7 linked regions of the Homo sapiens genome follow. The protein of the gene in region 6 interacts with the protein of the main gene of each other region in a biochemical or structural test. Each region holds a gene or a part of one and is shown on either strand. Other genes may lie near its edges.

Region 1 (3,500 bases), on a different chromosome or scaffold from region 6:
CAAAGCGGGTGGACCGCTTGGGCCCAGGAGTTTGAGACCAGCCTGCACGACACAGTGAGACCCCATCTCTTAAAAAAACAAACAAAAAAACCCCTCTGGGTTGGGGGGCAGGAGGGATGAATAGGAGTCAGAGCACAGAAGATTTTTAGGCCAGTGAAACTACTCATATAATATAATGGTGGATACATGACATTACACATTATCCAAACCCATGACATTATACATTTATCCAAACCCATAGAATGTAAGAGTGAACCCCTAAGGTAAACTATGGACTCGAGGGATAACGATGTTCCAACACAGGTTCATCGACTGTAACAAATGAACTATGTGGTGAAGGATGTTGATGAGAGTGGAGGCTCTGCATGTGTAGGGGCAAGAGGTATACAGGAAATCTCTGTAATTTCTTCTCAATTTGGCTGTGAACCTAAAATTGCTATATTAAAAAAAAAAAAGTCTTAAAAAAATAAAAGACCCCTCTGGCTGCTCGGAGGAAAAGGACTGGGGTCAAGGGTGTCCTCAGGTGGCCCGGTTAGAAGATGACTGCAGCATGGGTCCAGGGGTGAGATGGCAGTGATTTTAACAAGGGCGGCTGCTGTGGAGGCGGGAGAACAAGGTGGAGGCTGGAGGTGGGGCCAACAGGACTTATTCCTGGATTTGGATACAGAGTGTCGGGAAAAGAGAATGAAGAGTGGTTTCTAGTTTTGGGAATGAGCCTTTGGGTGGATGGTGGTGCCATTTACTGAGACGGGAGGAGGAGAAGGAAAGAACTAGCTTGAAAGAGACATATCAAGGATTGCATTTTGTTGTGTTAGGTTAGAGATCCCTATAACGCCCCCACTGGAATGGTAAGGGGGCAGTGGGGCACATGAGTCTGGAACACAGCAGAGAAATCAAGGCTATGGACATAAATTTGGAAGGCAGAAGTGCATAAATGGTAGGCAATGCCTCGAGATAGTTGAGCTCTCCCTAGAATAGCCAAAAAAGAGGATCCAAGGACGAGTCCCAGGTCAAGAGCATAAAACAATGAATATCAGTTGTTGTTACTATTTTCAGTACATTGAGAAGGAGAATGTTGGCCAACTACTGTTACCAGCATCTTTTCATCCATCTATTTCCCCAGCCATGCTGCCCTCCATTCATACCGTGAACAATCACGGAGCACATTTACTAAAAGGCAAAAGAGAGTAGTGGTCCATATGCAAGCTCTAGAGCCAGGCTGCTGTGTGTAAATTCCAATTCTACCAACTCCTGGCTGTGCAACCTCAGAGAATTCCGTAACCACAATGTATCACCATTTTTCCATCACAAAAGGGGTTGTACTGTGTTGAATAGTAGCTCCCCAAAAGATATACCCACATCCCAAAACCTGCAAATGTGTCCTCATTTGGCAAAAGTGTCTCTGCAGATGTAATTAAATTAAAAATCTCAAGTTGGAATCATCCTGAATTATTTGGGTAGCCCTAACTCCAATGACAAATGTCCTTATAAATGAGACACACAAAGTAGAGACATGCAGACAAGAGAGAAGACACAGACACACAGACAAAGCAACGTGAAGACAAAGGCATAGACTGGGCTGAAGCAGTGCAAGGAATGTCCACAGCTCCCAGAAGCTGCAAGAGGCAGGGAAGGATTCTCCCCTAGAGCTTCCAGAAGGAGCACGGCCCTGTCAACACCTTGATTTCAGACTTCGGACCTGTGAAGAGGATACTGTGAGAGGATAAATTTCAGTTGTTTTAAGACAACAAGTTTGTGCTAATTTCTGACGGCAGCCCCAGGAAATGAATATGGGGTAATAACAGTATGTACCTCATCAGATTATGAGAACTGAATGAGCTGTATGTGGCAAGTGTCTAGAACAGTGCCTGCCAAATAGTGAACATTCAAATAATTTTAATTTTTACCCATGTACTAGGCATTGTACTGGATCCTGAAGAGTACAGGGGAAGAGGCAGTCTTCAGAGATCCTCAAGATAAAGACGGAGCCTGGGAAGCTGAGCAGGTGAGGGATCAGAAGGCGGGAAGTGTGCTCAGGGGCCGTGTGCATCTCCCAGGTGCCAAAAATAGTGGACTGCAGCTCCACAGCTGCCACCAATAAAGAAATCAATAAGCCTGACATCTGCTTAGGTTTTTAAAGATGAGCAGTAAGTCCAGAGAGGAGTTAATGCAATTCTTTCCAGTACCTTCCTCTCCTTGTGCCATCTCACTGCCTGCTCTCTCTTGGGAATCCACGCTGATGGGGACACTCGGAGCACATTTTCTGGAGACAGCTGTCCCTTCTTTCGGCCTAATGATACTGGGAATTAAGGTGGCCAGGGCGGGGTAGGAGTGGAGAGTGGGCAGTGGCAAACTGTGGAGGAAAGCTATGCCAATTTTGTATGCTGAGTGGTTTTGTAATAATATTTGCATGGCTGCTTTAGCCTTGGAAGTGAATTCTCTTCATCAGGAGACCCATATAGCACAATCTAGTTTTACCCAAATCTCCATAAAACACACTGTGCCAGAAAGAGGGTGTTGGGCGGGTGGTGGGGGGTGTTCAACTGAAAACACAGCTGAAATCAGACATTTTATAAGTGTCCATTGGCCAACACACAAAAATGTAGAGTTTATTGACATCTTGCTTTATTAAACAGAAAAAGAAAAAGAAACCTTCGTGCTCTTGGAGAGAGTGTATGATTCCATTTGATCACCTGCAAGCAAACATAAGCAGTGTCAGGAGCTACTTAGTGTTCATGACGTGGAGGGGTCAGGTTCCTGAAGACATTTGTGGTGGCTCAGTCCCTGGAATTCCTCAGGGGTAAGGGGCATTACTAGGTGTTCAAACTTGTACCCACCAACCCAAGATATTATGGCTACCCCAAAATACACTTGCCTCTCCAGTCTCCAGAAACAGAGTCTTCTGGAATACTGGAATTACAGTAACATCCCAGGACGTGTAAACAGGACAAGCCAGGTTCACCTTAGACAGGCATCGGAAACATGCTGGCCTTTGGTGAAAGGGACAAAAGAGTTGGTGTTTATTTTCTTCCGCCTAGGTATCCTGAGATCTCCCTAGGAGTGACAGTAGTGAGAAGGCCCCCCCGCAGTGCAAAGCTCCCTGACACCCTCTCTCCTCCCACCAGCTGCCTGGGGATGCCCGGAGGCCTCCCATGTAAGGCAGCCCAGTTCCCCACCCCCTTCCCCCTACTGAGTACACTGAGATCCAAACTTACCATCTCTCCCACCCTCCTCCCAGTACAACTCCCACTGCCTGAGCTGGCAGGTCCCAGCCAGGGAATTGACTTTGGGGTAGCCACAGCACAAAGCGTGCCCCTGCTCACGGTAGGAATACTAATTCTACACTATATGAGTGCTGCCTTTATTTTTAGCCAAGCAGGATGATGGCTGTCCTGAGGCCAGGACAACAGGGTCTGTTGTGTTAACTTGGATGATAAAGTCTAGGGCTTGTAAAGCCAAGTACTAGAGGTGTCCAAGTGTTGGTAAAAATGAGACCAGCC
Region 2 (3,500 bases), on a different chromosome or scaffold from region 6:
AGAAGGGGAAGGGAATTGGGGAGGAAAAAAAATCAGAAGGAAGACGAAAGATGGGGCTATAAAAACAAAACTACCTGATAGTTGAAACGCTTTCAGAGTTGTTCAAATCAGTGAGAGTGGCAACGGAACACACAAACAACTAATTATGGAACTCTACTCTGGGGATCCTCTCTGGCTAGATAACCTGTGCTGATGTGCAGACACGTGGACATCCCCCTCTGAGACTGGCGGTCCAGAGGCAGTCTCTGCCAGGCAGCATTACCCGCTCCGAGGTGGAGCCTCAGCCCCCTTCTTAGAGCTGTTAAGTCTAAGGTGTGGCAGAGCAGACAGAGATAGAGGCATCTGAAGTGAGTATAGGTTTTTTGACTAAGAAAAAAAACAACAGCAAACATGACTAGTGATCTTGAAATATTTTGTACCGAGAGAAAGACTGCATTTATTTGTAGAATTTATCAGGTTTCTGATACCACTCATTGGATGTAAACATTTCATGTTTCCTCACTTTTGATATGAAAGTCGGTAAAATGCAGTATTAGTCCCGGGAGGATGTGCACAGCTGGTCAGAGCTTCCAGAAGGAATATCTTCCGAGGACTAAGGTGATCAGGTTAAGAGGGTTCAACATCCCACGGCCCTCACCTTCCTCCCTCCCACATTCCAGGCATGGAGATATCTGGTTTCAGAGTCAGCCCCAAATCTCCTGCCTATAATTACTTTAACTGGGGTCTCTAAGGTTCCCACTTGAGGGCTAAAATGTAGTTGGGAAAGAGGGCCTACTGGGGAGGTCTCACAGGAGGCAGTGCCCTGGGAAATGCCAAGTCCAGACTCAGTGCCAAGCAGTAACCATCTGCACTCGGGGACAGCGAGGAGCTGACCATGGCCTCTGATGACCAGCAGGTATTAGATGGAAGTGAATGAGAGAGAGAGAGAGAGAGAGTATGTGTGTGTGTGTGTATGTGTGTGTTCGAACACATATGATTGCCAGTATGGAGAATGAAAGATTAATAATGCTTTCTGGAGAGTTTGATGCAAAAGTGGGGGAAACGGAGAAAAGGCGCTAAGGCTAAATCCATCTGCATTTGCTATATTTCATTAGCTAAAGTCAGGTCAGGGCAGGGCCAAGGCCTCCAATTGGCAAAGGACAGTGTTATGGCTTTAAAAAGCTGAAACCCCAACCTCTAAGTAGATCACAATGTTTTCTGAGCTTTGCAGTAATTTTCTATGGAAACTAAAACCTCTAAAACATACAAGCTGGCCCAAATGAGAACACAAGCAAAAGATGTGGAAGACAGCAAAACCTGAGCACTGGTTTGAACCAGGCACTGACATTTGAAATGCTTTAAGCCTTTTCACATTCCTTCTTTATTCCCTCCAAAAAAAAAAGTCTTGAGTTTAATTTAGGTCTATTTTGGCTGAGATTAGCATACCTCTGACTCACAGGATTTAATAAATTATAGTATTATTGAATACATAGGACATCCCTCTACCCCAGCTTACTCTTATCTTTTTAATTTAAAATAGTATTCTGCTACCAAGAAGGATGCAACTGCTAGTTTTAGATGTAAATAGTGTTATTTACTGGACTTTGTGATATTATTTTCTTAACTACACTTTACTATGGCCCTGTTGAAAACAGACTATCAAGTTTTTTGTCTCTGTTCTGTCATCTCTCTTAAGCCAGGCACCTTTAGAGTGTTTGCAATTTGTTCGAAGTGGTTGAGGATCTCAGGCCCTGCTCACGTGAGGTGGAGTGCAGGGGAGCTACCGGTTTCCCTGCTGACCTGCTGAATGCTACCTTCCCCTCGAGTTGAATACACCTTAAGGAAAATGATAACACGAGGGACGTGTAACTTGTTTTGAAGCATTAAAAACCAGCAGCTCTTCACTATGTTCCATATTTTAACCAAACTACTGTAGACTACTAAACATAGCCAAGCCAGAACATTCCTTCTGGATTAAGCCTAGGCCACTTGAGGGGCAGCCAGGGGTGATGGTGTCAGGTGAGAATCCTGTGTCTTGAAGGAGTGGCCTTTACAGGAAGAGTGCCCATGTTTTCACCTGCAGCGTTGCCACCAGAGTGTGCAATACCTCCTGCACACAGGCTCAGGGTAAACTGCTCCAAAGCTGGGTTTTGTGTTGCATACAAAGTCAATAAAATAGTTGCTAATCCTGAATGGCAGCCAGTGATGTGAAGGTACTATTAAAGTGAACAAAAACTAGATTGCAACAGTTTTCTTTCCTTGCTTGAAGTATAACACACGCTCCATTTGATCCTGCCTGAAAGAAGCTAACATTATATTTGTGACAGACAGAGGCTCCATCAAGCCAAGCAACAATTAACAGCTCAAGTGTAAGATTTATAAATGCCCGTGTACTCACCCTTCAATTGTTACCACCCAGAGGTTACAGGACTCTTTCCCAGCATTTAGGGGAACAGGCTTTTAGAGTATTTAGAAGACCAGGCTATAATCAGTAATGTGCCTGGGAGCAGGAAATAGCTCCCAATTTATTTATGGCCTTGGGAAAACTCAATCCGGTGTCTCCTTGTAGCTCAGAACACTAATAGCCCCCCTGGAAGAGAGTGGCACATTGAGCTCCAAACCCAATCAACATACATCCACTTGGCTGCAGATCTGACTGCTGGGTCATGAAGGCCGTGAAATGATGTTTGCCCTCAAGTCACTAGATATTTTAAGAAGCCCTATTTTTCTCCCTTTTTGCAGGAGTAGAGAGATGAAAGAGGACAGACCATTGAAAACTTTTAGATGCAGGAGAATTGAGACTTCCACAAGGGAGAGAAACACAGCCTCCCCAGAATCCATTATGCCATCGGGTTGTGGCACTCTCACCCTTGCCATAATACCGTTTCCTAACAATATCAAATCAGTGGATGAAATACAAGCTCAGAAACAGGAACATTTTCCTAAATCATAACCTAATAGCAAACAAAAATTGAAAAAACAATTATTCTGAAGCTCATTATTCTTAGATCTGTAGATATATATGTGTTGACTCCCACAGGATGGCACCAAGTAAAGATCTTAAGAGCATAGTAGGGGTTCTGAGACCGACTGTCACCCGTGGATCCTGATGGGGAAGAACAGAGGCTTCACTGTAGCTATAGTTTTCCACCAAGTCAATCAAATTAAAACATGACTCATTGTCCCCTCCAAAGATTCATAAAATTCTTGAGCTAAAGTGATCTTCTGAAGAAAAGCCACCTAACAATGTTAGGAGGCTCATAAAGCTCATTTCTCTTTTCCCTGGTATGCACAAATATCAAGCCTATAAAAAAGTAATTATTTCCCCAAACCTGTAACCACTGCATTCGTTTTCTTTGGAGGAACATTGTAGCATTTCAGGAGGGTCGAGAGATCTAAAGAGTTTGGTCTGAATGTGTGTCTGTACAATTCCCTTTGGCATTAAACTCTGAAACCTACAATCAATGGCCTTCAAATTGGTGTTAAATTGGGAGAACACCCTACTGCTTTCTGAGTCTACG
Region 3 (3,500 bases), on a different chromosome or scaffold from region 6:
TGTTTGCCAAGACCTTTATTGCATTGTATTGTAATTTTTGAGGAGTCTCCCTCTGTCACCCAGGCTGTAGTGCAGTGGTGCAATTTCAGCTCACTGCAACCTCCGCCTCCCAGGTTCAAGTGATTCTGTTGCCTCAGCCTCCTGAGTAGCTGGGGTTACAGGAGCCCACCACTATGCCCAGCTAATTTTTGTATTTTTAGTAGAGACAGGGTTTCACCAGGCTCTTTGGCCAGGCTGGTCTTGAATTCCTGCCCTCAAGTGATCTGCCCGCCTCGAACTCCCAGTGCTGGGATTACAGATGTGAGCCACCACGCCCGGCCCCAAGACGTTTATAAAAGTACACTTTGCCTGACTGTGTTCCCTTAGTTGGCTGAGGAAAAGATCTCGCAAGTATTTTTTCCTCTGTGGAGTAAGGAAATTTCTTCCTGGTTTGGGGGAAAGTCATTTTAAAAAAAGACACTTGGTGGCCCCAAAGCTAGAAGTTATTTCTCTCTTAATGAACTCACTTTCTATGAATTAAGTCAAGAGCTTATTCTCCTTAGCGCTCAAAAGAAGGCATTGATCTCCCTATTTTGTAACTGCTCAGAAGGAAATCTGTGTTCCTACAAGATCCTGATTTTTTAAATGGGTCTGGATGTAAAAATGTTTGGCAATGGAATCTTGTTTTTGCCCACCAGGGTCAGTCTTCAACTCATCATGATGGGAAGACATTTCCTTTTCACAGTCGGCTACCAGCCTTCTTCTAATTAGCCAAATAGGGCAAACTCTTCTATCTCACCCATAATTTTAAGCACAAGGTGATGATAAGATATATTTACTGTTTTTAAAAATTGAATTAAACTCCTACCCTCTGAAATTAAAATTCTGTGTAAGAAGATTAGGGCAAAGTATTTGATACTTTGTCCCAGGTTTCCAAAATATGACAACTCACATTCATATACCAGGTAAGTGGAGACGATAGGTTTTTTTTTTTTTTGATATTTAATGATGTAGCTTCTAAATTTGGTAGTTCTGTCTTTGAGTGTGAACTTAAAAATTATGAAGATGCGGCTGGGCGCGGGGGCTCACACCTGTCATCCAGGCACTTTGGGAGGCCGAGGTGGGTGGATCACCTGAGATCAGGAGTTTGAGACCAGCCTGACCAAGATGTTTTGAAACCCCGTGTCTACTAAAAATACAAAAATTAGCCGGATGTGGTGGCGGGCACCTGTAGTCCCAGCTACTCGAGAGGCTGAGGCAGGAGACTCACTTGAACCCGGGAGGCGAAGATTACAGTGAGCTGAGATCGCGCCATTGCACTCCAACCTGGGCAACAGAGTGGGACTCCGTCTCAAAAATAAATAAATAAATAAATAAGAAGATGCTCACATACATCTCTCAAGAGGGACAGAAATCCATTTCTATCCACTACCTTACCTATCGATCAGTCCAAACTTTTCTTAAATCACACAAACACCTGTTACCTCTTTGTGCCTTTGTGTATGCTATTTTCCCTGTCTGAGATGCCTTTTCCTTCTTTTCCCCAAACTCCATTTGGAGTGAGATTCAATGGAACCTCCTCTGTGTAGCTTCATTCTAATCTTCTGTATACAATAAGGCTTTAATGAAATCATTCAACAAAGATGAGTCTTCCATTAAGGAAGAAGCCTGGCTAGACAACTGTTTCGTTTGTTGATATAAGTCTGGTCAATATCATCACTAACTATTAACTCATGGAATCCTACAGCAGCACCATGTCTTAGATATTTGCTGCCCATTATGTAAGCCAGAAATGAAAAAAAAAAAAAGTGTTTCAAACTTAATATGGTGTTTATTGGGTTTGACTGCTTTGAAGATTCCCTAAGACAAGCCAGCTAGTCTGTAATCCTATCTGAACAATGGTATTTTCCTCACTCATTTTTTAACACCAGTGAGGAACAGGAGGCAGCTAATAGCTTTCCAGAAGTAACTGTGTGCTAACTGTAAGATCAGAGCACCTTCTGAACAAAGGCCTTGGAGAGGCTTCAGAAATAAGGCAACCAGGGAGGGGACCAAAAGTCATGCTTTTAACCTCAAAACTAAGGCGGCCTATCCATAACCCAGAGAGGAGACTTAGGGGTCACATATAAGTTTCTATAGTCTCATTATGTACCACATGGGGCTAACCATACAGTCTACCATCTTGATTTTGTCAGCCATTACAATGAAAAAAATATAGTGAAATATACTTTGCTAAAAAAAAATGGCACTTACATCAGCTTTGCAAATAAATATAAGATGTTTGCTAACCCACAAAATATCACCCACTAAGCCCTCCCTCCCACAGGAAAAACCCCCACACTTGGTTCTCCTAGGAATATGCCATTAATTGCCCTCGGCATGTGTGAGTGGCTAGTCACAAGTTAACTTTATAGCAATATTTAATTGAATGAATAGAACAATGTTGTGCTAATGAGGGTCAAATTGCCACCAGATGTTGCCTTTTTTTTTTTTTAAATAAACACAGCTGTGTACATGCGTGCATAGGCAATATAGAACTAATAGAGAGAAAAGAGCTTCCAAGAAAACATTTGCAAGCAATAAAGGAGAGAAAAATCTAGGGATTAATGAATTTCCATCCCACCTTTCATTTTTATTTCAAACACATGAAAGTTCACTAAACTTGGTGCTGTGAATATGCTGTACATTAGATATTATTTCCAAACAACCATTTATTAAATGGGGAACTTTCTCCCAGTGGGGGCAGAAGAGTGAGTCAGTCTGATGAGAAGCCATCGACAACCTGACTGTTCTGTGATGTCGTCCTTGCGGAGGTCCAGGAACCAGCTCGGAGTCTTCCAATCTCTAGCTGCACAAGTCCCTGTGCACACTTGGAAAGGCAAGAAAAGAACAGAAATGAAAAGTAGTAGCATTTATATTCTGAAATATCTTAACAGAGCCTCTCCCTGCAGCCACAAATTATAAAAGGGTAATGAAAGCAACAGGCATAGCCCTAGAGAGAGGAGGATGAATTCTGTGGCTCCTGGAGGGCCCATCTCATCAAATGCATTTAAAGAACAGTGATGGATACTTAGAATTCTCACAAGTATGAAAAACTTGCTTGTGAAATCCCAAAGCAGGTTCCCTTTCATTCTGTTAGTCAATATAACAGAACTTTCTTTTAAAGCTATTCTGGCTCATTTAAAATAATCAGAGATTAAATTTCTAGTAAAAACTAGAGTTAGTATAAAATCCAACCCATTTTATAATCAAGCTAGACTGGAACAGTTCCCACTGGACTTCAGTTGTGCCAGCTGGGTAAAAAGCAGCCTAGCAACTCACCTTGAGGATGGTGGCCACTGTCTCCTGTGAGGCATTTCTCATGTCCTCCCCATTCACAGATAAGATCTGATCTCCCTGAATCAATCTCCCATCCAGGTCTGCGGCTCCGCCTTTCACGATGTCAGAAATAAACACTCCGCTTCCATTTCTGTTAATACCATACAGCAGTGCAGTATTGGCACAACCTAATATTTCCATGC
Region 4 (3,500 bases), on a different chromosome or scaffold from region 6:
ACTTCATGTAAAAATGTAATTGCTTTTCATGAGTAGTATGAATACAATTGATTAGTTTGTGTTTTCTTATCTGTAAAAAAACCAGAAAAGTACATTATATTGTGTTCAAAAGTGAGAAGAAGAGTTGTTTGAACAGGATAGTTGTAGAAGGAGTATTGGCAAGCATTAGGCAGGGTGGACTGGAAATCAGGGACATGTTCCTGGATGATATGACCTTTGATAAAAAGTCTCAAAAACTCTGTGTGGCTTTGAAGGATGGAGGCAAAGGGAAAGAGCATTGTGAGTAAATGACGCCAACAGGCTGGAAATTAGGAGGTCATATTTGGAGAACAGGAAGTGACCTTGTCAACAATTCATTAAATCAGAGTATTTTCTATATTAGATTTAAGTCAGAGTAATGTCTAATTAAAATTAGAAATATATTTTTAATTAGTAGTAGGAAATAGCCTGGAAAGATCAAGTCGTGGAAAAATTAAAATTTTATTCAGAGCTGTATTACTAGTCACTAAACAAAAATGGCTAATTATAGAATGTATATGAGGTCAAGATTCCCAGAACTGTATTTTTACACTACTTTGGAATGATATTAGAACTCTAGGGAAGTGGTCATGCATCTGAGGGAGCCACACATCCTGCAGTCCCACAGACTCTCACCTGTATCCGTTCTACTTCTAGAAAGGTTGCTGTCTGGAAGGCTCTTTCCCACTGGGCGAGGTCACTTTCCAGCTCCACTGAGAAGTACAGGTCCTCCCCAGACTCAGACTGCACGGTGAAGCACTGTTTCCGTCGGTCCAGCAGGTCACTGTCCTGGTGAAAACCTGGAGTTACACAGGCTGGCACACATCACTTCACATTGCTAACCTGGCCATTCCTGACTGGACCAAGGTGCAGAAGCCACAGGTAAAAAGACAACACTCTGCGAATTCACCAAGTCTTCATTAGACATTATACCAGAACTCCGGGCTTCAAAGCCCCAACACATGACTTCTCTGTCTTTACACTGAAGCATGTCCATAAAATAGAAGTTAGGGTTTCTGGCTTCATCTCTTACTAACAATATAACCACCAAAGCATTTAACATACAAGACTTGGTTTATTACTCTACAAAGGGGTGACACACTATCTCTTCCCTTCCTTACATAACTGTTATGATGTTGAAATTAAATAATGCTTGTGAACATGTTTGTAAATTTTAAGGAACTTTATAAGCAAACCAAAATATTCTTCTCCATGAGAAATGAAAAAGAAAATGAGTCTAATTTGTCTACAGCAATAATATTGCTTAAAAAAAAACGCATTATTTACCTTACTTGTGTAACTGTATTTCATTGTATCAAAAAAACGACTTTGATGCTGGCAATTTCTTGGTCTTACCAGAAGTTTTCAACTGAAGTGTTCACAAATTTACATATATTCCAATTTAAGAGACATTAACATGAGAAAAAAAAGTGAAGCAAATAATTTATGAAACAGAGTAACCCAATGCAACATGTCAGATATAGCATTTTAAATACAGTCATGTGCCGCATAAGGATGTTTGGGTTAATGATGAACTGCATATGCGACGGTGATCCTATAAGGTTATAAGGGAGCTGAAAAATTCCTATCCCCTAGCAATGTCATAGCCGTTGTAATGTCATAGAGCAATGCATTACTCTTGTGTTTGTGGTCATGCTGGTGTAAACAAACCTGCTGTGCTGACAGCTGTGTAAGTCTAGCACATACGATTATGATGTATGCTACATAATAATAATGATGATAAGAAAGAATATGTTACTGGTTTATGTATTTACTGTATTATAGTAATACAGTAAATATTACTGTATTTACTGTACTCCTATTTTTTTAGTGTACTCCTTCTATTTATTAAAAATATAGTTAACTATAAAACAGGCTCAAGCAGTTCCTTCAGAAGGTATCCAGAAGACGGCATCATTATCATAAGAGATGACAGCTCCATGCGTGTTATTGCCCCTGAAGACCTTCCAGTGGGACAAGATGTGATGATGGAACTCATCCTGACTATATGCAGGCCAAGGTTAATGTGTGTGTTTCTGTCTTATTTTTTATAAAAATTTTAAAAAGCCAAAAATAAAAAAGTAATTTGTAAATTTAAAAGTAGAAAAAAAATGTAGAGAATAAGGATATAGAATAATTTTGTACAGCTACATAATGTGTTTGTGTTTTAAGCTAAGCACTTCTACAAAAAAGGCCAAAGTTGAAAAAATTAACTTTGTAAAGTAAAAAATGTTACAGTAAGCTAAGCTTAGTTTATTATTGCAGAAAAAAATACTTCTTATAAATGTAGTGTAGTCTAAGTGCTCAGTATTTATAAAGTCTATAGTGCTGTATAGTAACATCCTAGGCCTTCACATTTACTCATCACTCATTCATTGACTCACCCAGAGCAACTACCATTCTGCAAACTCCATTCATGGTAAGTGCCCTGTATCTGTGTATCATTTTTTTTTTAAATCTTTTAGACTGTACTTTTACTTTACTTTTTCTATGTGTAGATGTGTTTAAACAACTACTTACCATTATGTTACTTTTGCCTACAGTATTCAATACAGTCATATGCTATACAGGTGTGTAACCTAGGAGAAATAGGCTGTACTGTATAACCTCGCTGTGCAGTACGTTATGCTGTCTCAGGTTGTGCAAGCAAATTCTGTGGTGTTTGTACAACAGTGGAACCATCTAACTGAGAGGCATTTCCTGAAATATATCTCAGTTATTAAATGACTGTATATATGCTATATCTATGCAGTGTACTGAAAATTGTCAAAGGGTTAATCACTGGTATCTGTAATCATTTCTCATAAGGAGGGATGTAAGTGTATCATTATTAAACACCCAAAATGTTAGATGGAATTCTCTGCTTTGGCAAATGTTTAAAAAATAATAACTATTTTCATTGTTTCCTGCTTGCATTCTTATAATTGCTGGAAGAGAGCTAATGGAAGGCATTTACTTCCAGGGTTGTAGAATTTAGCTCTGACCCTTGCTGCCAGTAGATGCTCAGAAAGCTAAAAGGATGATAAATGCTGTGCTTATTGATTTTCCTACTCTGTCTGAAGGGAGAAAAAAATGAAAACATAATATGTTTGAGAGTACAATCTAATGATAAATTATAAATACTTTTTAGTAGTTTTGGGGTTATAATATCTATGGAGGGAACAATGAGAGATAATAACTACACAAGTAAATATATTAGTACAAATTATTGTAAATGCCATTATAAAAAAAATAAGAGGCTGGGCGCAGTGGCTCATGTCAGTAATCCCAGCAATTTGGGAGGCCGAGGTGGGCAGATCACTTGAGGTTGGGGAGTTCCAGACCAGACTGTCCCACATGGTGAAACCCCATTTCTAATAAAAATACAAAAATTAGCCGGACATGGTGGTGCATCCCTGTAATTCCAGCTACGTGGGAGTCTGAGGCAGGAGAATCACTTGAACCTAGGATGAGGAGGTTGCAGTGAGCCAAGACTGTGCCAC
Region 5 (3,500 bases), on a different chromosome or scaffold from region 6:
ACATCTACACATAAAATTATAAATTGAACACGAGCATTAGTTATTTAATCAACTATTGCTAAGCAACACTAGAGCCACAGAAACACTTAACTGAGTTTAAGTAGGTCAGAAATGTAGAAATTCAGAAAAGTTAAGAATAAATGCCATGCCAGAAGCCATCTGTGTCAGTGACAATGTTAGTTCATATACTGTGGACTGGGGAAAAAATATTAGATGAAATATTTACATTTGCAATACATTTTTTGTTATTGTCTTAACTATATAGTAAACTATTTTTTAAATTTAGATAATCAACAATTATTAATAGCAAAGTTCAGAAAATGCTGAACAGAGGTACGTGTATTTTTAGTATGTGTGCACAATCTCAAAGAGACAGACACATAAACATATAAAATTAATACATTTTTGTTAGAAACAGTGGGGAGTGAAGGAGAGGATAGAAACACACATTATCATCCCAATTGTCCTGGCTGAGTTTAAATTTGGAACTCTATTCCCAGTACCAGAGAAAAACACCTAGAATATAAAGAGATAATCAGTAATTCAGAGAATCTTGTTTCATCATTTTTAAGGAAAATAATTAAGTTCATAAAGAAAATAATGAAAAACTCATGTTCAATTACCTTTTCTAACTTTTTGGCTTCAATATGTCGAAGTACTTGTTCTCTCCAGTCACGAGGAACTTTACTTTTTCCTGGAGGATCTAATAAAGAATGCTCAGAACCAACCCTTGCATTTGGTCTTTTTGAAGGACTAGTCCGTGAATAATTGAAATCACTAACTGACATAGTTCTCTCTGGTATTTCATTAATAGAGGGTCGAGCACTCTGAGGTCTTGATGCATTTGGACCATCTATGCTGTATGTTCGTGCAGAAAGGGGTCTCTGTGATCCTGGCATCATTGGAGGAGTTCTTCCCGCTGAGTGGAACTCTCTGTATGATAAATAATCTCCTTCAGGAATCTGAGCCCGCCTTGTAGAGCCTGGATCACCAAGATTTACAGAGGCTGTGGAGGACACACTACTTTGTCGCTGGATTGTACTTCGAGTTACTGCAGGAATAAGTCGGTCGTTTGGTGAGATGGCCCACATTTCCCCATGTCTTGCTGGGCCAAGTCTCTGATGTAAATGGTATGCAGTATTAGCTCGAACATTGTTATGATTAGAGAAATTCATATTGGCAGAATGTTTAGCATAACTTTGATTTTCTGTGCTCTCTGATCTAGGAAGGAGCTGAGGAGGAAAACTGGCATGGTCTATTTGGGGATTTTGTTTGGAGTGCCACAAAGTGTCTTTGACTGCAGCACTGCTACTGTATTGGATATTATACTGTGGAGGACCATATATTTGAGGTGCAGATTGTGGGCCACTTGTGGGGCCTCTTATTATATTTGGCTCTTCGGGATTATGATTTGAATCAAACTTGAAAATTGCCTTTGTTCCTGATATTAAATCAGAAGATGAGGAAGAACCAGTAAATACCTGCAATGGTTGATCATACAACAGTGTGGCAGACTTGCTCCTGACTATATTTTTTCCATCAACAGCAGATGTGATTTTAACGGTTGTACTTGGCTGCTGAGGTCCATTATCACTAAGAATATCATAGATTTTTAGCCCTCCAATCTCCATATTAGTTATGCTATGAGATTTCACAACAGATCCAACTGGACCACTTTTCTGAGGGGAGAGATCTTCAGTGCTTTTGGAAATACCTAAGTCAACAGAACAATCACTGTCATGTGGTTCAGTCCTATTAGGAGACTGGGAAGTTTCCTCAGAATGTCCATTTACCTTATTTACGGATTCCAAATTAGGATACTTGTTTCCATTTTCCAAGTGCTCAGTTTCCTCTTTAGAATTAATGCTTAAAAAGCTTGTTCCAAGCACAATATCCTGTGTTTTTGATCTTTCCATGATCTCTGGTTGAAATGTATCATTAGTTATAAGTTTATTAAGATTCATATTGATATGATCTAATTTGTGAGTGTCATCAGCTGTGGCTGTTGAGTCAACACTTTTCTCAATTAGAACTAATCGCTCTTCAACATTCAAATCATATTCAGGTAAGTTAAAATCTTTTTTATCATGAGCTTTGAACTTTTCCTCTGTTGAACTGTTTAAAATATCTCCATTTTGTAAAAGGCTGTTAAAATTTTCATCTTCTTGCCTAAAATAAAGATAATTTTATGAAAAACATAATAAAGCCGAGTTTTCTTAGTAACAGGGAACATTAATAAATAAATTGTGTAGGTAGACAAGTTAAAAAAGTTAATAAAAGTCAAAGACAAAAGGCATTTATTATCAAGCATGTAATTTTAAAATATTATCTTAATAGTTAAAAGAGCTTTATATTCAGTTGGAGACAAGTAATACAATTAAAATTCATAGATAATACCAAGATTAATTTTCATCAATACACTCAATCTGATTTGTCACAAAATAATTTAAAGGGCTGAACTATGAATAAAATTTTAATGTTTGCTGCATCTTTTCATGAATGTGCTAAAAAAACAAAATGCTTGAGGGAGGGCAGATATATGGAGAGAAACCTAGTAACATGAATAGTGGAGTAAAGAGCAAAGGACATTTTTACAGTTAATTTTGAAGCCTTACATTATTAACCAAATTAACCATAGTTAACGAAGTACACAGTTGTTATTACATTCAAATATATAGGTAAGAAAATTGTACAAAGCAAAGAACTGAATAATTGTCCAAAGTTTAACATCAAATATGTAAAAGGCATAGAAAGATAAATGAAGTCTAATCACTCTTCTAAGTAGCTAGCTGTATTTGGTAAATACTTTTAAATGTGTCATTCCAAAATTATACAAAATATTTTATTTCTACCTGTGATATTAAGTATTTGTGTCCTCTTGTATACATATTCAAGTTATGTTTCCACAAAAATTCCCTAATACTGGTCTTCCCATTACAAAAAAGATAACTTTCATTACTAGAAATACAGCACAAAAAGGTGTTGCTGTATTCCTTGCTTAGGCTTTATTTCATTATATTAAAAGCAGGATTTAGAAAATATCATACCGCTTTCCCAACAATAAATAAAATTTTATTATTCAACAAATTAATACGATAATATCTAGGAGGTTATAAAAATTAGTATTTTAAACAGCAGCTCATAGCTTCAAATTCAAAGAATAGAAATAAATGATTGATTGTGATTATAATTACACAGTACCTAAACTCATTTTCAGGCATAAAATTCACCTCCCTTTTCCAACAACACGCATTAATATATACAAATTTTACTTAAATATGCCTGAAATTTAAGAACAACTCTAAATGACTATTAAAAATATCCACACATTAAACTTTTGGTTTAGTAGTAACCCCGATCTTTTTTTTTTTTTTTTTGAGACCGGGTCTCAATTCTGTTACCCATGCTGGAGTGCAGTAGCCTGATCATGACTCACTGAGGCCTAAACCTCGCAAGCTCAAGTTAACCTCCCACCTTGGCCTCTCGAGTAGCTGGGACTA
Region 6 (3,500 bases):
TGACTCCTACCTTTAATATAATCTATACTGCATGTCTGTAGAAATGAGTGCCTATGTCTGGATTCGAACCTGGCCAGATCGCAGGCTTGACGCATGCCAGTGGCTTACTATATACATAGTGTATGTGTGTACCACACTGTGACTACTCCCAAACTGTGTGACAATGGGCCCCAGCCCTGTAAGTCCTGCCAGCACGGCTACTTCTTCTTCCATGCGTGACACCAACTTTAATTAGTCTATGTTATTTTTGTTTTACAGATTTTCTTCCATCACTGAAGAATCTTTTTGGAAACCCAGTATACTTCCTATATTTATGTACAAGCACTGTTCAGTTCAATTCTCTGTTCGGCATGGTGACGTACAAACCAAAGTACATTGAGCAGCAGTATGGACAGTCATCCTCCAGGGCCAACTTTGTGATCGGTATGCTCATCTGCCTTTCATGCTTTCTCAGAGGGACTGTCTTAGAGGTACCTGATTAACTCGGGAATCTTCGAGAAGATTCTTCCAAGATTTAGGTAATTTATGACATTTTAGATGAGCTCAAAAAGTAACAAGAATGTTGTAGCAAGAATTATTCACATCTGTGGGTAAGTAACCCAGAGAGCAAGCAGTTCTTGAAGTGATATCATAGAGATGAAACATGCATTTTATGAGGAGTTTGTTAATAATACTGGATATTTGTCTTTTAAGTGCAGCCGAAACCTCAAAACAGTGGCCATTTTACATGAACAGTTTCTAGGATTATATAAAATGCACAATGAGATAGGTTAAAAGATGTTCATTCCAAAACAAAACTTGTATTTTCGCGGTCAAAAAACTTTTCTGACTCCTGGCAACTGAGTTAGTTCAAAGGGTTGTGTTTCTAGCAACACAGTCAATAATAAGATAGAAAAGTATGAAGAAATGAAAGAAGAGAAACCAGAACTTACAAATACATGACCACCACTGTGGAAGCAACTAGATATTTTAAAAATCAAGATTCGTTTCTTTAATCCATGAACATGTCATTTAATGTTACTGTTTCAAGGCATAACATATTTGTTTCTTGGGACATATTCCTTTATGATAGGAGACTCCAGTGGTATAAAATAATTTTCTCTAGTATTGTAAAAATCAGTCTATATTTCTACCTCTGAAAGAGACCTGGAAGGAGAAAAAAACAGCCAAATGTATTTTAGGAGATATAATTTTTCTATGATAATCTTGGGTAATGGGCATATAGCACATGCTAATATAATTGACAGTTTTAAAAGATTTTTCTCCAAAATTCTTGATGTTAAGGTTACGTTACTGAACATTTTTACTTTTAACATCAATTGATTTAAATTAATTTTATTACTTATTGGCTGACCTAAAGAAATATTTTGTGGCTTTTTTCTCCAACACCCCATGCATGCTAATCAATGCTTTATATTGATTTTAACATGAATAGATGAGGATTTAAAGTTTAAGAGAGACTTTATTTTATTTCACTTTTATGTCTACATTGAGATATAACTTATCAACAGTTAAGTCTACAGACCTTAAACAGTTCAGATGGATAATTTTGATATATATAATGTGTGTGTGTGTGTGTGTATATATATATATATATATATATATATATATATATATATATGTGTGTGTGTGTGTGTGTGTGTGTGTCACATCCAGCATCCAGAACATACAGAATATTTTAGTTCCCCAGAAAGCTTAACTCTCCTATCAGTCAAAACTTTTCCCCAAAGCTAATAACTATACTAAACTATATTATCATAGACCAGCCTTGCCTGTTTTTGAACTTCATATAAATTAAATAGTATATTATATACTCTTTTGTGTCTAGCTTTTTTCAACTGAAGTGAAATCTATGAGATTATTTTATATTGTGCATAGCAGTGGTACATTCTTTTTCATGCTATGTCATATCTTATTACATAAATAAACCACAGTTTATTCATTTTATAGTTCATGGACATTTGTGTTGTTTTCTGCTTTCAACTAATAGTTATTTATAATACTATAATAGATAATATAATAATATATATTATAAATATATAATTTCATATACTATGAAAATAATTATACATACAATTATTTATAATAGCATTATAAATCATTATGTATTTATATGTATATTTATAGGTAATATTATAAATTTATGATAGTATAAATAATTACATTATAAAACATATATTTAAAATATCTAACATATATTAATATGTATATAATATGTATTAATTATATATTATATATATTATAATAAATTATATAAAATAATATATACAACATGATATATAACTATCATATATAATATATAAAATACTTTTTATATTAATAATTTTTATAATTATTATTTATATTATAAATCATATAATTATTTATAATAGTATTTTAAATAATTATAGTTAAAGAAAGAAAAAATACAAATAAAAATATGTATTTTAATATGTATTAATATAATATATATTATATTATTTATAATATATTATAGCATATTACACTATAAGATAGTATTATATGCTATATTAAAATTTATAGTATATTACATATAGTACAGATAATATAGTATAATATATGATATATGGTAATACTATAATAATATAGTAACATCTGGTATTATATATAGTATATTATGTATACTATAATATATAATAATAATGCTATTATAAAATTATTTATAATAGTTAAAAGCAGAAAACAACATTCCACATGTACATTGGTGGGCCACTATGCTCATTTTTCATGGTTATACCCTGGAGTGCAATGGACATTTGTGTTGTTTTCTTTTAACTAATAGTTATTTATAATACTATAATAGATAATATAATAATATATATTATATTATACTGCTAAGTGCAGTTGCTAAGTCAGAGGGAGAATATGTGTTTAAATAGAGTAGATATTGCCAAAACACACGGAAGTTGTGCAAATTTATACTCCTATTAGAAACGTAAGAGCATTCCAGTTGCCCCACATGCTTATCAACACTTGGAATTGTCAATTCTTTTCACTGTAACCATTCTTATGCGGTATGGTTGTGGTATTTCATGGTGGTTTAATTTGCATTTACCTAAAACTCTATTCTTCAAAGTTTCTGACATGTCATATCTACAGATAATTCAAATACTTTTGTGAGAGATAAGTAATAGTATCTAACAATTTTACATCGTTATAGCTAGGATTGTTCCTGAGATCATATTGGTTTCACATTAGTAAGTATGGGGTGCAGCCGACTAAGCGTAAGTGGGCCAATTATTCAATATCCTCTCACCCTTACTTTGATTATTTGTACGATGGTGAAAATAAATATATCACTAGGTTGAAATAAAGATGAAAGTATACAGATAAAATGCATAGTAAATGCGTATATCTGTCGTTCAATAAATATTATTTCTCTCTTTCTTTTCTTCTTCTATTCAACCTCTCTTTTTCTTATTTTTTTTTTTTAACTTGGGCTATGGGATAATGATCTTCCTGCAATAAAATATGAGATAGATACAAAGAAGCACATTTCC
Region 7 (2,921 bases), on a different chromosome or scaffold from region 6:
CTCCTCAGGCAAGCAGGTCTCGGGCCCTGGGCTGAGCAGCCCAGAAAGGCACATCGCGCAGCTCTGCTTCTGAGCGTTGCCCTCCCTCCCCCGCCGGGATCTGTGTGGCCGATGTAGGTTTCCGCTGCTCCTGCTCCCGGCAGGGGCTTCCTCCATCAGCCATTCCCCGGCGTTCCTCAACCAGAAACCCACCCCGAGGCCCCTCGCAACTGCAAGCCTTGTTTATCAGCGACTCATGTTCCGCGTGGGCTCAGAGCTGCTGGAAACAGGCACCATAACCTCGGCAGGGCTGAAAGGATTCCAACGCCCCGGCCGCCTCCTGCCTCTTCCCCGTTCTCCCGCCCGCTCCTCCACGGGTGGATTTCCTCACAGGTGTGGGGCTGCTGGCCGTGGGGGCGGCCGCTTCAAAGCATCTACTTGGGAACACTGGCTTTTCCTTTCTTTGAAGCCATCAAAGGGAGGCTGGTGTCCGCCTGGCCCCTCCTCCTCCTGAGCCAGACCCCTGCCCCCACCAGTCCAGGGAAAACAGGCCTCCCAGCTCCCAGCCGACCCTGCAGTGCACAAAATACCAGTGTCCCGATGTGGCTCCTGGAGACCTCATCCGAAGAACAGGAACTAGAGACCCCTCCACCCACCCGCCCACCCACAGGCTGCAAGGATGGTCGCCACGCACTCAGCCTCACAGAGCCACCAGGGGGAGCACCACAGACGGCCCGGCCTGCTGCTGCTGTCCCCAGACCCAAATTCCCTGCCCGGTCCCCAGCGGGCCCCTCTGTAGGCCGGGCTCCTCAGCTCTCAGCCTCCCGCCTCGTGCGGCCACCACGCTTCCCAGAGAGCCTGCAGCCCCTTTGTGCTGAACACCCCTTCACACACCCCTACACACACACAGACACACCCACTCACACTCTCCTCACACCCCATGCCTCACACCCACTCACAGACCCACAGCCACAGCCGTGCACACATACACACTCATGCTTGACACCCCATGCTCACACACACCCACAGCCACACACCCCTGCACACACCCACACTCGCACTCCTACACACCCCATGCTCTCACACACACACGTACATCCGCATACACTCACCCACACACACACACTCCTCCACACGCACACTCAGGTACATTCACACAGCCACACACCCACACCCATCCACTCATGCACCCCTATACACCCACGTGCACGCACACACTCATTTCCCACACCTACCCACACTTACCCACACTCATACATCACATCCCACACACACCCATGCTCTCACACATCCACATGCACACACCCACACTCGCTCACACTACACACACACACACACGCACACCCGCTGCGCACTGGCCAGGCCTCCCCCGGTGTATGTGCCACCTCCCCAGCACCATCCCCCCTCCCAATGATCCTGCCTCCTTGTGAGCTCTGGAGGAAAACCTGCACCTCCCCCACACCATCCTCACACTGCCGTGGAAGCGATGCCAGAAAGAACTGGACTGTGGGGGGTTCAGCCAGTGAAGTGGGACAGGGCAAGCAGCCTGGCTGTGGGAGGGGATGGCCAGCAAGGGCAGAGAGGCAAGCCTGCCAGGGTGGCCAGAGCTGTGTGCCCTGCAGAGCTTCTGAACTGGACATACAGGTCCAGTCCCAAAAGTAGTGTCCAGGGAGCACCCCCAGCAGCCTGTGCCCTCCCGGTTGCTCAGTTAGAGCCAGACCGGGATGGCTCCGCATCACCTGCCGCTCCATTCACCCTTGTCACAGCAGCCCCGATGGGAGACACAGCCTGGCTGACCTTCAGATGCCCTGTGTCCTCTGGAGCGGGGGAGGCTCATGGAGGGCAGGCGGGAGCACGTGGGAACCGGCATGCAGAGGCACACTCAAAGTCCCTCCTTACCTCTCCGACCGAGTTGGACAGAGCTTGGACTATCTTCTCGTGGGCTGTGGCCACCACGCTCTGCCCGTTGATCTCGATGATGCGGTGGCCCACACGGACGCCCCCTCGCTCAGCAATGCCCCCTCTCATGAGGCTGCAGATCTAAGCAGACATGGCCAGGTCAGCACACGTGTTCCCGCCACACCCGACAGGCGCTCCACCACGTCCCCAAAGATGGGACATGCAGAGGGAAAAGCGCCACATGATGAATACGTGCACGTGCAATTCGCTGACTCACAGACAGAGATCCTTATGATATGCAGTATGTTTCTTTAAAACAAGAGAGTTAATGCCATGGTGTGTGGGGAACCACCAAGTTTTCTGACTCCCACGGTGGAACCTGTCCCCCAGCTGCACCTCCCCCAGGGCCGCTCCCTTTGTGGTCAGGCTAGAGACTGGTGACACAGCCCAAGGCCACTGCCACCTGGCCTCCTACGGCACAGCCTGGTTACCATCCTGGAAGACAGGCACTTAGCTGATGGGCGGGCGGGAAAGGAGAGGCAGCCTGTCCCCTGGCCACCAGAAAGGTGGGGCATCTGTTCTGTCAAGGGAAGGCTCTGTTTGCCGGATGCCCAAATGGTCTACATCGACAGGGAAGAGTCACTTTATTCCTACATCCCCCCCCCGCCAAGTGACGTAAGGGCATTTTGTGCCAAATATACTGGTTCTGGTTTTGTTGGAGACAGGGTCTCATTCTGTCACCCAGGCTGGAGTGCAGCGGTGGGGGCTTCCATTCCAGCCTAAAAGTGACGCCAAACAGATGGACAGGAGGGCCTGGGAGCGCCTGTGACCACGAGACTGGACAGAATGGAAAACAGGCGCCGTGCACACCCGTGTTCACAGCAGCAGTGTTCACAACAGCCGAGGGTGACAGCACGGACTAGCGGAGAAACAGAATGTGCTCTAGGCCTGCAGGGAAACAGTACTCAGCCCTGGAGAGGAGGGAGAGTCTGAAGTGTGCTACAACACGGACAGACCTCGGGGACACTATGCTGCATGAAACA

The links.
Region 1: the proteins of SLCO1C1 (region 6) and PDZD2 interact in a test that uses a peptide from one of them, tested with the Homo sapiens proteins (one large-scale study listed by IntAct).
Region 2: the proteins of SLCO1C1 (region 6) and PARD3B interact in a test that uses a peptide from one of them, tested with the Homo sapiens proteins (one large-scale study listed by IntAct).
Region 3: the proteins of SLCO1C1 (region 6) and PATJ interact in a test that uses a peptide from one of them, tested with the Homo sapiens proteins (one large-scale study listed by IntAct).
Region 4: the proteins of SLCO1C1 (region 6) and SNTG1 interact in a test that uses a peptide from one of them, tested with the Homo sapiens proteins (one large-scale study listed by IntAct).
Region 5: the proteins of SLCO1C1 (region 6) and ERBIN interact in a test that uses a peptide from one of them, tested with the Homo sapiens proteins (one large-scale study listed by IntAct).
Region 7: the proteins of SLCO1C1 (region 6) and APBA2 interact in a test that uses a peptide from one of them, tested with the Homo sapiens proteins (one large-scale study listed by IntAct).

The regions. Positions count from the first base shown.
Region 1 is NC_000005.10:31,645,631-31,649,130, reverse strand, and holds part of PDZD2 (PDZ domain-containing protein 2), read right to left. Parts: intron 1-3,500.
Region 2 is NC_000002.12:205,615,975-205,619,474, forward strand, and holds part of PARD3B (partitioning defective 3 homolog B), read left to right. Parts: 3' UTR 1-3,500. UniProt on the Homo sapiens protein: Putative adapter protein involved in asymmetrical cell division and cell polarization processes. May play a role in the formation of epithelial tight junctions.
Region 3 is NC_000001.11:62,116,480-62,119,979, reverse strand, and holds part of PATJ (inaD-like protein), read right to left. Parts: intron 3,449-3,500; coding exon 3,301-3,448; intron 2,849-3,300; coding exon 2,762-2,848; intron 1-2,761.
Region 4 is NC_000008.11:50,701,907-50,705,406, reverse strand, and holds part of SNTG1 (gamma-1-syntrophin), read right to left. Parts: intron 834-3,500; exon of another isoform or gene 808-833; coding exon 655-807; intron 1-654. UniProt on the Homo sapiens protein: Adapter protein that binds to and probably organizes the subcellular localization of a variety of proteins. May link various receptors to the actin cytoskeleton and the dystrophin glycoprotein complex.
Region 5 is NC_000005.10:66,052,075-66,055,574, reverse strand, and holds part of ERBIN (erbin), read right to left. Parts: intron 2,170-3,500; coding exon 624-2,169; intron 517-623; coding exon of another isoform or gene 409-516; exon of another isoform or gene 1-408. UniProt on the Homo sapiens protein: Acts as an adapter for the receptor ERBB2, in epithelia. By binding the unphosphorylated 'Tyr-1248' of receptor ERBB2, it may contribute to stabilize this unphosphorylated state.
Region 6 is NC_000012.12:20,722,832-20,726,331, forward strand, and holds part of SLCO1C1 (solute carrier organic anion transporter family member 1C1), read left to right. Parts: intron 1-258; coding exon 259-423; intron 424-3,500. UniProt on the Homo sapiens protein: Mediates the Na(+)-independent high affinity transport of organic anions such as the thyroid hormones L-thyroxine (T4), L-thyroxine sulfate (T4S), and 3,3',5'-triiodo-L-thyronine (reverse T3, rT3) at the plasma membrane.
Region 7 is NC_000015.10:29,112,974-29,115,894, reverse strand, and holds part of APBA2 (amyloid-beta A4 precursor protein-binding family A member 2), read right to left. Parts: intron 2,020-2,921; coding exon 1,879-2,019; intron 1-1,878. UniProt on the Homo sapiens protein: Putative function in synaptic vesicle exocytosis by binding to STXBP1, an essential component of the synaptic vesicle exocytotic machinery. May modulate processing of the amyloid-beta precursor protein (APP) and hence formation of APP-beta.